2 separate regions of the Homo sapiens genome follow, and region 2 is linked to region 1. A link means that fine-mapping ties the variant in region 1 to the expression of a gene that starts in the linked region. Tissue or cell type: tibial artery. Region 1 holds a variant in brackets; the other region holds the start of a gene. All regions are shown on one strand. Distances are between the middles of the regions.

What was found. PIP is the estimated chance that this variant, and not a neighbour inherited with it, causes the effect.
Region 2: it holds the start of CRTC3, and the variant in region 1 is fine-mapped to the expression of CRTC3 in tibial artery (GTEx, PIP 0.98). The same link has a PIP of 0.9 or more in aorta, breast and tibial nerve.

Annotation. Positions count from the first base shown.
Region 1 is chr15:90,559,293-90,562,198 of GRCh38, reverse strand. All of the region lies in intron 2 of CRTC3 (CREB regulated transcription coactivator 3), which reads right to left. Among named protein-coding and RNA genes, the nearest start is that of CRTC3, 31 kb to the right of the region's middle. The variant G/A (reference allele first, on the strand shown) is at 1,745.
Region 2 is chr15:90,528,329-90,531,234 of GRCh38, reverse strand. It overlaps CRTC3 (CREB regulated transcription coactivator 3), which reads right to left and starts at 1,312. Exons shown (of 15, transcript NM_022769.5): 1 at 1,032-1,312. The coding sequence starts at 1,163. RefSeq lists an enhancer at 209-368 and silencers at 759-938, 959-1,708, 1,809-1,858.

The sequences.
Region 1 (2,906 bases):
TCCCTTGCACTCAAGAAAACTAGCATAAAAGAAAGTGGTTACCCTGGTGACTTCCTCCAAAGAGGTTACAGGAGAAAATGGGGAGGGGAGAGCTTTCTCAAGTCACATCCCCAAGAGGCTGGCGGTAGAGACAGAAAAGAGCTAAGACATTAGCTATCTGTTGTCGAGGCAGCCAACTGCTTATAGCCAGGGAGTTCCTTGAGGCACTGACTATTGCCTTTGAGCAGGGAAATAATTACAATGTCTGGCATCAAGGCCTGTGTAGAATCTTCCACAGATGTTATTCTGTCTCTTGGAAAATATCCACAGTAATAATAAACAACTAAAGCTTCATTTTAAGTTTAAAGTATAAAAACTAGCTGTTTCATAACATAGGGACCAATTCTAACTCCTGACTATTGTGAAATTTTGTAGGGAATTGGAACAAAACTTTGGCTGGTTCTACAGCCAAAACATGTAGGGACTTAAAATTCTAGTTAGAGATAATCACTACTTTAAATGTAGTGCCTCTTCTCCCTCTTTTGTGAGCTGGCAGTCAGAGGCTGGATTAAGGAGATAGGTAAGAGGATTGCTTCATACTAATATGATTGAATTTAACACAGATTCAAAATGCGAGGGAATATAGAGACCTAGCTTCTTTCCTGGTCCTACACTGCCACCGCCCACATGTGCCTTCTCTGTGGGTATTCTTTCTGCCTCTCTTGAAAGCTGCACTGAGTCAAGGCACTAACATACAGCCTGGTTGACTTCAGGACAGGCCGATTAAGACTTCAGCAAAAGTATTTTTATCTAGTCTGTGAAGAATTAGTAGGATGCAACTAGCCTGTATGACATTTAAGAAGCTTCATATAATGAACAGCAAAAGCTTAGTTCTCTAGGCCTAGGTAGGATACCTGCAAAGAAAGAGGCAAATGGTACCAACAATCTATTGAAGTCAAATTAGAAGGCTGCAACAGGGAGTTTATACTAGGAACTTTGCAATATGTATTGAACAACAACTGTGCTGGGCATTATTCTAAGGATTTACATGCATTACCTAACTTAATCCTCCCAATAGCTCTATCTTAGGTACTATTAGTAGCCACATCTTGCAGATGAGTGAGCTGAGACACAGAGAGACTAACGATCTTGTCTACGATCCAGTGCTAGTTAGTGGTGGAAGTGGTCACCAGATCCCCACTCTAGGGACTGCACTTGTGACCATCAACATGAAAATTTTGTTTATTTTGACATATTGGATGGCAGGTCATAGAGACTTATGACAGAGACTTACTAAATTGCTTGATCAAGAAAAGGGCTTGTATGGTATTAAATTTTGTTGACCAATTTTGTTGAACCCCCCAAGCGGCTTACAAGACAGTTCTTATGTGAGACATCTCCACAAACTAAACCTGAACCTGCAGGGTGCAATCAGGAGCCTTGGTAATTCATTCCAGGACTTTTATTGTTCAGACTCAAACAGGACCTGCAGCTCCAGCAGGCAGCATCTGGGCGCTGCTCTCATTCCCTATTGTTCTGACAGCCAGACCTTTGAGGATCTGCAGAGCTGGTGGCCTGATAGGAAGTCACACGATTTCAGAAGAGCCTGCCAGGTTTTGACCATATGAATTATGTGTCTAGTTTCTGAGGCTGCCTCTGGAGTTAACCCCACAGGGGATATCTGAAGTATTCATCGTCTGCCCCAATCATGCTGCGTAGCTGAGGAGGGTGGAGTAAGCTAAAAGCGAATTCTGCCCACAGGGAA[G/A]ACAACGGATGCCTGGTAACTTGGAGCTAAGCCCACAAATTCCAGAACTCTTTTGAAATTTCTGATTATGTGGCCAAAGTCTGGGAAATGTTTGGGTCTACTTGGCTCTGAGAAAACACATTCTCTTTCAAGAATCTGGTAGAACCAAGGATGAGAGCCATCATCAGTGACGTAAACTGGAAGTCAGGATTTAGAGGTGTCCTGACTGAATGGACATCCCACAGAGTTCCAGCCCTCAACAAATACTAGCTGAATGAATAAATCCCTATTCTCAAGTATTTGATCAACCACCAAACCTGGAGCGCTAACTAGATGAATAAAAGAAGGTTCCAAAAAACATCATCAAACAACAAATGATGGTATGAGGAAAGCTATTTATAACATATAAGACAACATGTATCTCTAACATTCGAAGAACTCCTACAATTTGATAAGAAAAAAAACTGAGAAAAGGTTATGAACAGGAAATTCACAGAAGAGGAAACCAGAATGGCCGGTAAATACATGAAAAAGGCCAGACATGGTGGCTCACGCCTGTAATCCCAACACTTTGGGAGGCCAAGGCGGATGGATCACTTGCACCCAGGAGTTCGAGACCAACGTGGCCATCAAGGCAAAACCCCATCTCTACCAAAAACATAAAAATGAGCCGGGTAACAAAAATTAGCCGAGTGTGGTGGCATGCGCCGGTGGTGCCAGCTACTTGGGGGGCTGAGGTGGGAGGATCACTTGAGCCCGGGAAGCAGAGGTTGCAGTGAGCCAAGATCACACTATTGCACACCAGCCTGACTGACAGAGTGAGACCTTGCCTCGAAAAACAAACAAACAAACAAACAACCACAAAATGAAAAAATTTCAACTTTTCCAGCAATCAGGAAAATATACATGAAAATAATGCACCCATGATCTCATCTAATTCTTCCAATAACCTGGGAGGTAGAATAATTATTTCATAAGTAAGGATATTAAAGTTTAGAGAGGTTTTAATTCAACCAGTAATTGACAGAGCTGCAACTTGAACATAAATCTGGATAATAATAAAGTCTGTGTTTATTCTAACTTGCTGCTCTAGTGGAATACTTGTGTGGTGGCTCAGGTCCTTTTGGGCAAGTCGCCTAACCTCTTAAGACTCAGTTTTCTCATCTGTAAAATGGGAGTCATA
Region 2 (2,906 bases), 31 kb after region 1:
ATTTGGATTTTGTGTGGAAGTCTTCCAATTTAAAAATTCTGGCAACAGATTCAATAATTTTTCCCAAACACTGCGCTGGCCAAAAAATAATGTGTCTGCAACTCAGCTGGTTTGCAACTCTGCTCTCAGCTCTCCTTCAAACTGTCTCCCCCGCCTCAGTCCCCCAGAATCTGCAGATCCTCCCCCATCCTCCCGATGGTCCTCCAAGGTCAGCATTCAGGATCCTCAAGGCCAGCCCCACTCCTGCTGACCCCCCTTCTCTGCAACCCTGCGCGGACACTCCGGTTGGCTCTCCATCCTCCACTGCCTCACTCAGCGGTTACCTAACCTCTCCAGGTGTTTGTCCCGGCTCGCGCCTTACTCATTCCTCCAGGTCCCTCTCCAGTCACCAGCGACGCTTGTCAGTTCTCACTAAATATCCCGGGCCGAACAAAGTAAACTGGACCCGATAAAGCACCTCCAAGGAGTAAAAGGAGCAGAGCCTCACACTCGACACGGAATCCCGTCGTGGTTCCAACAACCCGAGCCACCCCAGGGCCGGGCCCTGGATGGACTTGTGCACAGAGCTCCCCCCACGAGCGCGTGGGACCCTGGGGTGCCCGCGGCCTTCCACGCCGGCAGAACAGCAGGGCTCGATGGTGGGGGATGTTCGGAGCGACCAGAAGCCGCGCCGCGCCACCCGGCCGGCCTCCGAGCTGTTTGCGATTTCCTCTCGGGGCTCCTCGTCCTCCTCCCCCTCAGGCCGCCCTCGCACGGCCGCCCGCCTCCACGGGCTTCACCCCTGCCCATCTTCCCGCACACGGGGCCGGGCGACCCTCCCACCTCAGCCCGGGATCGCGAACGGCTAGCGGGTGTCGCCAGGCGGGGAAACGCCGAGGCCGCGGCCGCTCCGGTCCCCCTCCCAGCCGCCGGTTCCCGGGCGCGGCCCCCGCCCGGCCCCGCCATCGCCTTGGCCCCGCAACCTCTCACCCGCCGCGCGGGTCCCGCCCGCGGCCGTGGCCGCCCCCGCCCGCGCCGGCCCGGGCCCTCACCCGCGACAGGGTGAGGTCGGTCATGAGCTGCTCGAAGGCCCGCGTCTCCTCGGCCTGTCTCTGCGTGTGCAGCGCGATCTTCTCACTGAACTTCCGCGGGTTGGCGCTGCCCGAGCCCGGCGAGGCGGCCATGGCGCGGACTCTGCGCGGGCAGAAGCGGGAGACGGCGGCCGTGGGGCCTGTACCTCGGCCCACCCGTCCGTCCACAGGCCGCCGGGGCCGCCGCCCGAAGCCAGTCGTCCGGCGCGACCCGGCAGAGGAGCCGCCGCGGCCCCGGAGCCAGCGAGCGGCCGGGAGCGCGCCGAGGTCCGCCCCCGTGCGCCCGGCCCCGCCCCACCCTCGGCGGGGCCCGCCCGGCCTCCAGTCTGCCCCGGCCCCACGCTCGCGGGCTGAGGGCTGCTCCCCGCTTCCCGGTCTGGCTCGGGACCCGCCGCCGGCGGCCACCTGGAGGGACCCCCGTCAGCCCGACAAAGTGGCCCCGGCGTACGGGGAACGCTGGGGTGCCACTCCACGGAGACTCTCCGACCCAGGGATGGCCTCTGCGTCTACGCGACGTGGAGAACACAGCCTGTGCCCGCATCCCCCCTCCCCCAGCCAAATTACGAAGATTTTCTTCTCCAGGTGGAACCTGGGCGACCGGACCTCGAGCAGGTCACCTCGGGCCCCCGCAGGGGGTGCGCCCATTTTGCCTGGGGCCTAACGTCTGCCCGCCAGCCCTGCCGCTCCAGGCCCCCGGCCTCCAGCCGCTGGTTTCCTGACCTCTCACACCCACCCCTCCCCGCTCCAGTCAACCAGAGCTGTATCTCGGCTTTAAAAACTGCCTCCTATTCTGCACAAACTACAAACACCATCCAGCCCTGCTGCAGCCTTGGCTCCATAGCCCCGGCCCCCTTTCCAGGTTCTTTCCAAGTCTCCCTACGGCCTCTCCACTCCTGTGGCAGCTTCAGCAGGTGCCAGCCCCACCTTGGGAAACCAGCGCTCAGCCTCAGCGAATTTCCCCTTCTTTTGGGGGAGTGAATGGATGTCTTTCTCTGTCGCCCGGTCTGGAGTGTAGTGGTGCGATCTCGACTCACCGCGGCCTTGACCTCCCGGGCTCAAAAGATCCTCCCACCTCAGCCTCCCGACCAGCTGGGACCACAGGCGGGGGTCACCACGCCCGGCTAGTTTGTAAATGTTTTTGTAGCAATGGGGGGCGGGGGTGGGTCTCGCTATTTTGCCCAGGCTGGTCTCGAACGCCTGGGCTCAAGCGATCTGCCCACCTCAGCCTCCCAAAGTGCTGGGATAACAGGCGTGGGCCACAGTGCCCGGGGAGTTTCCTCTTTGGAGTCCAGAAGCTACTCTCAGCATAAATGTTGATGTGCACAAAGATGTCCCGGGGAGCCCTGAGCGTGTGTCAGTGTTCTGTAAAGAGGGAAATATTAGAGGCCTACGGAAGAGTACGGAAAATAATATTAATACTACCCACGCCCCCCACTATCAAGATTAAACAGACATCAATACATTTTGCTGCATGTACTTGGGATTTATTAAAGACATACAAAATTAGTCATAACGACGGCCCCACTCTCATTTCTTCTTCCGCCCCACAGATAGTCACCGTGCTCAAGTTGGTACATATCATTCCAGTTTGTGTTTTTATACTTTTATTACATATGATGTAGAGATCCAGCAATGCTATATGGAATACCTAATTTTGTTTTTAAACTTTACAAAAATGACACCATACTGAATAATCATTTTGCATCTTTTTTCATTCTCCATTATGTTTTCGAGATATATTTGTGTCAATTCATTTATATGATAATATTCCATTATGTTTTTCACCTGTCTCTCAGACATAGCCTATAACTGGACTTTTTAGAAAATGTATTCTGA